2 linked regions of the Homo sapiens genome follow. The protein of the gene in region 2 purifies or fractionates together with the protein of the main gene of each other region. This does not show direct contact. Each region holds a gene or a part of one and is shown on either strand. Other genes may lie near its edges. The genes, in order: LMF1 and SEZ6.

What was found.
Region 1: the proteins of SEZ6 (region 2) and LMF1 purify together in Homo sapiens (affinity purification with mass spectrometry; one large-scale study listed by BioGRID and IntAct). This does not show direct contact.

The regions. Positions count from the first base shown.
Region 1 is NC_000016.10:964,439-968,250, forward strand, and holds part of LMF1 (lipase maturation factor 1), read right to left. Parts: intron 1-3,812. UniProt on the Homo sapiens protein: Involved in the maturation of specific proteins in the endoplasmic reticulum. Required for maturation and transport of active lipoprotein lipase (LPL) through the secretory pathway. Each LMF1 molecule chaperones 50 or more molecules of LPL.
Region 2 is NC_000017.11:28,978,466-28,982,277, forward strand, and holds part of SEZ6 (seizure protein 6 homolog isoform 1 precursor), read right to left. Parts: intron 3,575-3,812; coding exon 2,906-3,574; intron 1,349-2,905; coding exon 1,215-1,348; intron 1-1,214. UniProt on the Homo sapiens protein: May play a role in cell-cell recognition and in neuronal membrane signaling. Seems to be important for the achievement of the necessary balance between dendrite elongation and branching during the elaboration of a complex dendritic arbor.

The sequences.
Region 1 (3,812 bases), on a different chromosome or scaffold from region 2:
GGCCTCAGCACAGTGACCTCAAGTATTTTTTCTTTAAGGGATGTGCTGCAGAGCTCCGAAGTAGGGCAGTGCTGTTTGCTTTTTAAACAAGCAAGTATTTTATAGAAGAACTTGTAAAACCAAGTGGTGCATTTCATTAGAACTCAAGTGGCCCGGAGAAAAGAAAAAGAACTCATTTCCCATGAGCTCTTAGAGCCACTGAAAGCTCAGAACAAAACCAACTGAGCAGGGTTTCAAGTATTCTTTTTGGTTTCATTTTCTCCTCAAATTTTCTGAAGAACAGCTGAGAGTTTAGCAAATACGGGTGCAAACGATTCTGCCTGCCACGTCAACCCTGCCTCGGGTGTCATCTGACGAGGATGCCAAGCTACAAGGGCTGCGGTGAGACTCAGAGACACGCTACCAATGGCACCGCGGCCCCACCTCGCCGAAGCAGCTGCCGGGGAGACGCGATAAAACTGCCCCACGCGGAAAAGAAGGAAGGGCGGTGAGCAGGCGCACAGAACAGACGCCACAGTGCGGCACGCATGCCTCCACGCCTAAAGGACAAAACTAGCATGGAGATCCCCTAGAGGTCGGATTTTCAACATAATCTCAGTGAGCCCAGGACTCCAATGTGACAATGTGGAACTGGAAAGACGAGCAAGAAAAGCCCCTCCGTTCCCGCCAGCGTTGGGCATTCCTTCTGCAGTCCAGGCTGTCCCCGTCACTCGGGATCACAGCCAAGCGGTGGGTTCTGTGTGGTGCTTGGCTCCTAGGGCCTCGCGGAAGCCATGTTCTTCTCCATTCAGCTTCATGGAGAGACTTTCCCAGGTTTCAGCCCACGCTACGAAGCTAGACAGGAGAGTGGCCCCCACCCGCCCTGTTTGGAACCCAGCTGGGGCATGCGGTGTTTGGAACACATGGGCAGATTGGGGAGAGGCCAGAAGAGCCTCATCCAGAGCCAAGGACAAGCCTTGAGGCTGAAGAGCTCACCAAGGCCACTACAAGAGAGCAAAAAAAAGAGCCTCAGAGACTCCTCGATAAATAACCAGAACAGAGAGCAAAGGTGGAGAGCAGGAGGGCAAGGCACTGAGACTTTAGAAGCTTCCAGGGAGAAGAAGAGTCAGATGCTTGAAGATGCCTCCTCAATGCTGCAAAGCTCTGAGGGAAAGTGGCTTTGATGGAGAATTAGAGATCCGGGCAAGTTGGTCCTTTCTGGAAAAGCTGCTTGGGGATACACTCCAGCAAAAAGAGAATCCACCAGCAAACAGGAAGGCATGAGCAGCCCAGGAAGTATGAACACAACCAAGGGAGGGCTGTGGCAGTATCTGTCCTGCTGGGCCGCACCTCGGGGCTGGAGGTGGGTAGAGGGGAAAGAAGGGGTAATGGCTGGAAAAGTGTCCCATGCTGACACTAAGCCCTGGTAGAGACCACCTGCTACGGGTCAGCACATTTCACTGAGCAGGAGATGCCCCTAGAAGACAAGGGATAGAGGTATAAAGAAAGTCCTCTCCCTGACTGCAAGGAGCTAGAGGGGAGACAGGCACAAGAACAACACTGGAATGGGGACAATATCAGCCGCAAAGGAAGCAGAGAGCAGGGCTCCGGTGGTCAGCCCTGGGTGGGGTCAGGAGTCCACGAGTGATGAGGGCTAAGTCTGAAGGCCAGAAGGGTGTCGGCAGCCACGGAGAGAACAAGTACAGTTAACCCTGGGAAGGCAGAGGCCAGGTGGTCTCAGGACCACGGTCAGGAAGAGATGCCTCACGTGGCGGGGACACAGCGGGAGCAGTTCAGGCACCACGGCTCGTCCACTGGGGCCCCAGCCTCTCACTGCAAGCAGTGCAGGTGGACATCTGCCCCAGAGGCAGCAGGGAGCGTGTGTCCCAAAGCCCCCAGCACTCATGCCCTGTGCAGGCGCCGAGCAGCCGGCCCTGGCCGGGGCGGTTCCCTCCTAGGCCTGTCCAGGACTCGGCCCCCACAAACACATGGACCGACAGACGAAATCCCTCAGGAGTGTCTCTGCGCCGACGCCATGGCACCCACGAAAAGTGCCACACATAAAGTCAGTCTGCAAATGCCAACGTTACCCAGTCTTCATGTCACATTTCACCTACAGATCCCTTCCGAATTGTAACAATATCTCATAAATGTTTGAGCTTCAAAGGAAAGGTCCTTTCCGACGTTCAGATATATATACTCCGTGGCTGCCTGCGAGCCGTCTCCCAGGCGGGTGTGTCCTTGGTCCGCCTTCTGGGAAGTGTGCACAGGCAAGGAATCCCATGTCAGCCTCAGGACGGCCCAGCGGTCACTCTCACCTCATCAGTGACAGGAAGGTCTTGATGAGCAACTTGGCCAAGGCCACACAGCTAAGGTGTGGCCCACCAACCCTGAGCCCCACTACTTCCACCTGTCACAGCTTCCAGAAAGTTCTCTGCAGTGAACTGCTATCAACCCAATTCTGACCAACTGTAATTACACTGTTTCCAGATAACACCTTAATTCTGAGGCAGTTAAAATGCATTGTGTACATATACTATGTGACTCTCATCAATAGCAAACCAACGTCAGTTCAGTCCAGGAGAACCCACCCAGGGTGGGCAGCTCTAGCCTAGGGTGTCTTCAGTAGCACCTGCAAGGCTGTCCTTCCCCCGTCTTGTCAGGGAATCCAGCTCTACCACTGGCGCTGTAACAGACACAGGGCTGCTGGAAATTCCAGGAGTCCAGCCCCAGCTGCCTGTGGCCGCCCATGGACGGACCTGGCCAGGCCCCCTGGGAGGGGGATTTCAAAGCATCAAGGAGCCGGCCTGGCTGACGAGGCTCCAGACCAGCTGTTTGCCACACACGCCCCCGTACTGCAGGGTTGACCAGTGAGGGCCTCAATCTTCCGCAGGGAACGCCGGGCCACAACGTCGACGCACGACCCTGGGGGTTCCTGCCATAAAACAGTGAGGGATTCTGGCCAGGCTGCTCTGCCCTCTGTTCCGGTGAGCCTGGGCATGGTGCCCACTCTTGGGTTCGGTTTCCTTATTGCGCACACAGACAGCAGCAGGCCTGACTGCAGGAGGCACCGGCACCCATGGGCGGCCGGCACTGCCCCTACACACCAAGAACATGGCACCCAGGTCCCGCTGCTTAGGCCGGAAACTCCTGTCACATAAGCTTTTACTCGTCCAGATTTCAGCCATTCCTGGGAGTGACATCTGTGCTGAGGGGAAGCTCAGTGTCAGTGTCAGGCATCCCCGACCACCTCGGGCAGCCTCGGTCCTCCCAGGAGCCGTCACGGCCCGAGAACGCCGCTGCCCAGATGTGAACCGGGTGTCCAGGATACGCAGGCTGCACAGTGGCGTGAATGAAGGGCAGGGCTGAACTCCAGGGCCTACGGACAATCGCTGCACAGCCGGGCCAGTGGCTGACCCTGCTTCCTCGCTGTCCACTGGGGGTAGTGGCGTTGTCACCAGGAGGTCAGCACCGGGCAGGGTGCTACTTCAGCATCTGCTCAACGCAGTAATCACACTAGGGACCCGAGTCCACACGTCAGGAAGACAGGTGTGTCTTCAACTCTGAGCCCTGTGAAAATGCCGCTTTCCGCTAACACACTCCGGCTCCCACAGCACAGCAGGGCATGCCCGACACCCCAGGACGCCCGCGGTATGCACGTCTGTGTGCAGTGAGCACACCCCTAGCACCTACACACCTCGGTGGCAGCACATGGAAACGCCCAGGCCCGCGGTGGGAAGGAGCCAGCCCCAGGACGGATGCAAAGTCAGGTTGAATGCAGAGGCCTGTCGCTGGCAGCCGGCCTCTCCAGGTCTGGCTTCGAAGCTTCCCCG
Region 2 (3,812 bases):
GCTTTGGGGATCTGAGGGAATTCCCAGAGAGGGTGATGCCAGGGCCAAGTCCTAAGGGAAGGCATCATGGGATGACTCTTCCAGGCAGAGGGACCAGCATGTGCAGCTGGGACTTGGGAAAGAAGGTTTGGCCCATTCAGTTAGCTGCAAGCTGTTTAGTGCAAAGTGGGGGTAAAGAACAAGGGACGAAGTGTCTAGGGGTGGACCCAGAGAGACTGACCTTGATTCAGGAGCCCTTAGAGAGGTGTAGGGGGCAGGATTGATTTGAGAAAAATGACTGCAGTGGAGGTGGAGATGGGTAGAGTAGGGAGCAAGTGTGGGCGGGGTGACCAGTGAGGCAGCTACTGCATCATCAGGGGAGGGATGGTGGGGTCTAAACCACATGTGGTTGTGGGGATGGAGGGAGAGAAGCAGAGAGATTTAGAGGGGAGTATCATGGTGACAGAATTTGGGGATGAATTGATGGGACTGGGGGAAGAGGGACAGGGAAAGGCTAAGGAGACCCCATGTTGCACATTAAGGGACACCATCCACATTGCACTATGGTGGTTCTGCTCCAGGTTTCTGACCTGGACAGGAGTGGCTTTGGGGGAACAAAAGGAAGATTTGGGTTTGTGGAGGTTGAGGAGCCTGTGGGACATCTGTGAGGACCTGTAGCCTCAGGCCTCGGGATTAAGAGAAAGTCTTAATCCTAACGGAGGGATGAGATAACCCAGGGAGGCTGGGGACAGGAGGCTGGCCTGTAGATTTGACTTTCCTATCAGCTGATCACCTCTCTGATGGTGTAATCAGGTCTGTCTTCCCCCACCTCTGCATCCCAGAAGCCAGCACAGAACCTGACCCAGAGGAACTGCTCAGAGAGGATTTGCTGAATGAATGAATGAATGAGTGAAGCTCCATGACTCTCTCAGGCCCAGCGAGGCAGCCCTGTGTTCTCTGCTTAGCCCATAGATTCAGATGTAGGGTTTATACTCACCCAGTCCCCTGCCCATCCAAGGCTAGAGCCCCCTCCCACAGCCCCTCTTGGCTTAGGCCATTGCCAAACACACGGGGCAGAATCTAACCATTTAGGCCCATCTCCCAGCCCTGGCCTTAGGCGATGCCCCACAATTGATGCCCCTAATCATCCCCACATCCTCTCATAGCATGTGCCTCTCTGAAGAAAGAGAATACACCCGCCCCAGCTTTGCCCTTGCCAGATCCAGATCACTCACCTTGATTTCCACGCCATAGCCAGGGTAGACAGAGATGTAGAAGAAGCAGTCCAGGCCAACATCAGTGGGGGAGCTGAGGTCTGTAGGGGAGTCCAGAGAGCCCTCTGGGCCTGAGAAATTCCAGCTACAAGGGCCTGGGAGGCAGGAGGAGACACAAAGCTAGTGCCAGCTCTGGTGAAGTGGTCCAACTAAGGCTGAACCGTGTGTGTGTGTGTGTGTGTGTGTGTGTGTGTGTGTGTGTGTGTGGTGAAGACCACCTCTTGTGATGTCTAGTCTCCTGTTGAAGGAAGGGGACCACCTTTTATTAGGCACCTACCATGTGCAATCTTTTTTTTTTTTTTGTATTTTTAGTAGAGATGGGGTTTCACCATGTTAGCCAGGATAGTCTCCATCTCCTGACCTCATGATCCGCCCGCCTCAGCCTCCCAAAGTGCTGGGATTACAGGCGTGAGCCACTGCACCCGGCCCCCTAACATGTGCAATCTTATCTCAGTTTTCACAGTAGCTCAATGAGGTTTGTTTTCTTTCTTTTTTTTTTTTTTTTTGAGACGGAGTTTTACTCTTGTTGCTCAGGCTGAAGTGCAATGGCGTGATCTCAGCTCACTGCAACCTCTGCCTCCTGGGTTCAAGCTATTCTCCTGCTCAGCTTCCCGAGTAGCTAGGATTACAGGTGTACACCACCATGCCTGGCTATTTTTTTTTTTTTTTGAGACAGAGTCTCGCTCTGTCACCCAGGCTGGCGTGCAGTGACATGATCTTGGCTCACTGCAAGCTCTGACTCCCGGGTTCACGCCATTCTCCTGCCTCAGCCTCCTGAGTAGCTGGGACTACGGGCACCCCCCACTACGCCCGGCTAATTTTTTGTATTTTTTAGTAGAGATGGGGTTTCACCGTGTTAGCAAGGGTGGTCTCGATCTCCTGACCTCGTTCCACACGCCTCAGCCTCCCAAAGTGCTGGGATTACAGGCATGAGCCACCGCGCCCGGCCAATTTTTTGTATTTTTAGTAGAGACGGGGTTTCACCATGTTGGCCAGACTAATCTTGAACTTCTGATGTCAGGTGATCCACCTGCCTCGGCCTCCCAAAGTGCTGGGATTACAGGCATGAGCCACCGTGTCCAGCCAGAAGTTTATTTTCTTATTGCCATTTTACAGATGAGGCTCAGAGATGAGATGTTAAATAGAATTCCTAGGGTCATGTTATAGTTGGAAGAATCAAGATTTTTTCTTTTTTGAGACAGAGTCTCGCTCTGTTGCCCAGGCTGGAGTGCAATGGTGCAATCTCAGCTCACTGCAACCTCTGCCTCCCAGGTTTGAGTGATTCTCCTGCCTCAGCCTCCCGAGTAGCTGGGATTACAGGTGCCCACCACCATGCCCGGCTCATTTTTGTATTTTTAGTAGAGATGGTGTTTCGCCATGTTGGCCAGGAGGGTCTTGAACTCCTGACCTCAGATGATCCACTGGCCTCTGCCTCCCAAAGTGCTGGGATTACAGGCATGAGCCACTGTACTTGGCTGAAGAATCAGGATTTGAGCTCAGGTCTATCTGGGTCCAATCTACATGCCTCCTGCAGGCTGGCCCTTGGTGCCAAAGGGCAGGGCAGGCTGGCACAGTGTCAGAGACAGGCTTTTAGGGGCCCCGCAGCCTCCCCCATCCCCATTTCCACATCTGCAAGCCAGCAGGTAGCTGACCTGGTGTCTGGACTGTGGTGATGGTGGTGGTGATGATGGTGGTGGTAGTGGTGGTCTCCTCATCATCTCCTGAAGCTGTGGAGGAGGTGATGGTCCCCTGGATCCCGATCCCTGCGCCCTGGGACACAACCTCTGCAACCCACGGCCTTCCCATGTCTCCAGGACCCTCTTGGGTTGGTGTCCAGGCTCTGCTGGGGGGTGTAGTGCTGGCTATCTCCCCTGGGCCTAGGGTGGGCACTGCCATGCTGGGCCCTGGAGGTAGGGGAGCTGTGATTCGAAGCATAGGGGACTCTGACTCCGGACTCCAGGGTCCCTCCTTGGACTGGGGCTGAGTGGGTACCGCAGCCATGGCTGGAGTGGGGCTGGTAAAGACAGGGCGGCTGTCCTGGTTGGCCAGGCGGGGAAGGGGACTTGGGGTGAAGGGTGCAGGTGGGTCAGGCTGGAAGGGCAGTGCTGGCCTCAGCTCCTCATCTCCCTTTTCCAGCCCCTCTTGTAGGAATTCCTCAAGCAGCGGGTGGTGGTTGAGCAGCTTCAAGGTGGGGGCTGTTGTGACAAAGTGGACGCCTCGTTCTGGCTGCTCAGGTGTGGGGGCTGCTGTCAGCTCGCCATCTGTCTCCTCGATGCCTGGGGCTTGTCCTTTCCCCACGGTTGGGGCCTCTAAAGAGAGTCCTGAAATAATAAGGGATGGTCAGAGGTTCTCCCCCTGCTCCAGAGAGCAGCATCACGCCCAACTCGAGTAGTGGGGGGGCCCGCTCTCTTTTGACAGACAGCCCTGAGGAGCGTGCTCACTGCTGAGAATCACGGAACTACAGAATTTGTGAACTGGAAGTGAGGTGCTATTACATACTTCAAGGGTGGCACATGAGATACTCTTTCTCCTCCAGCACCAGAGGCAGGCATTTCTAGC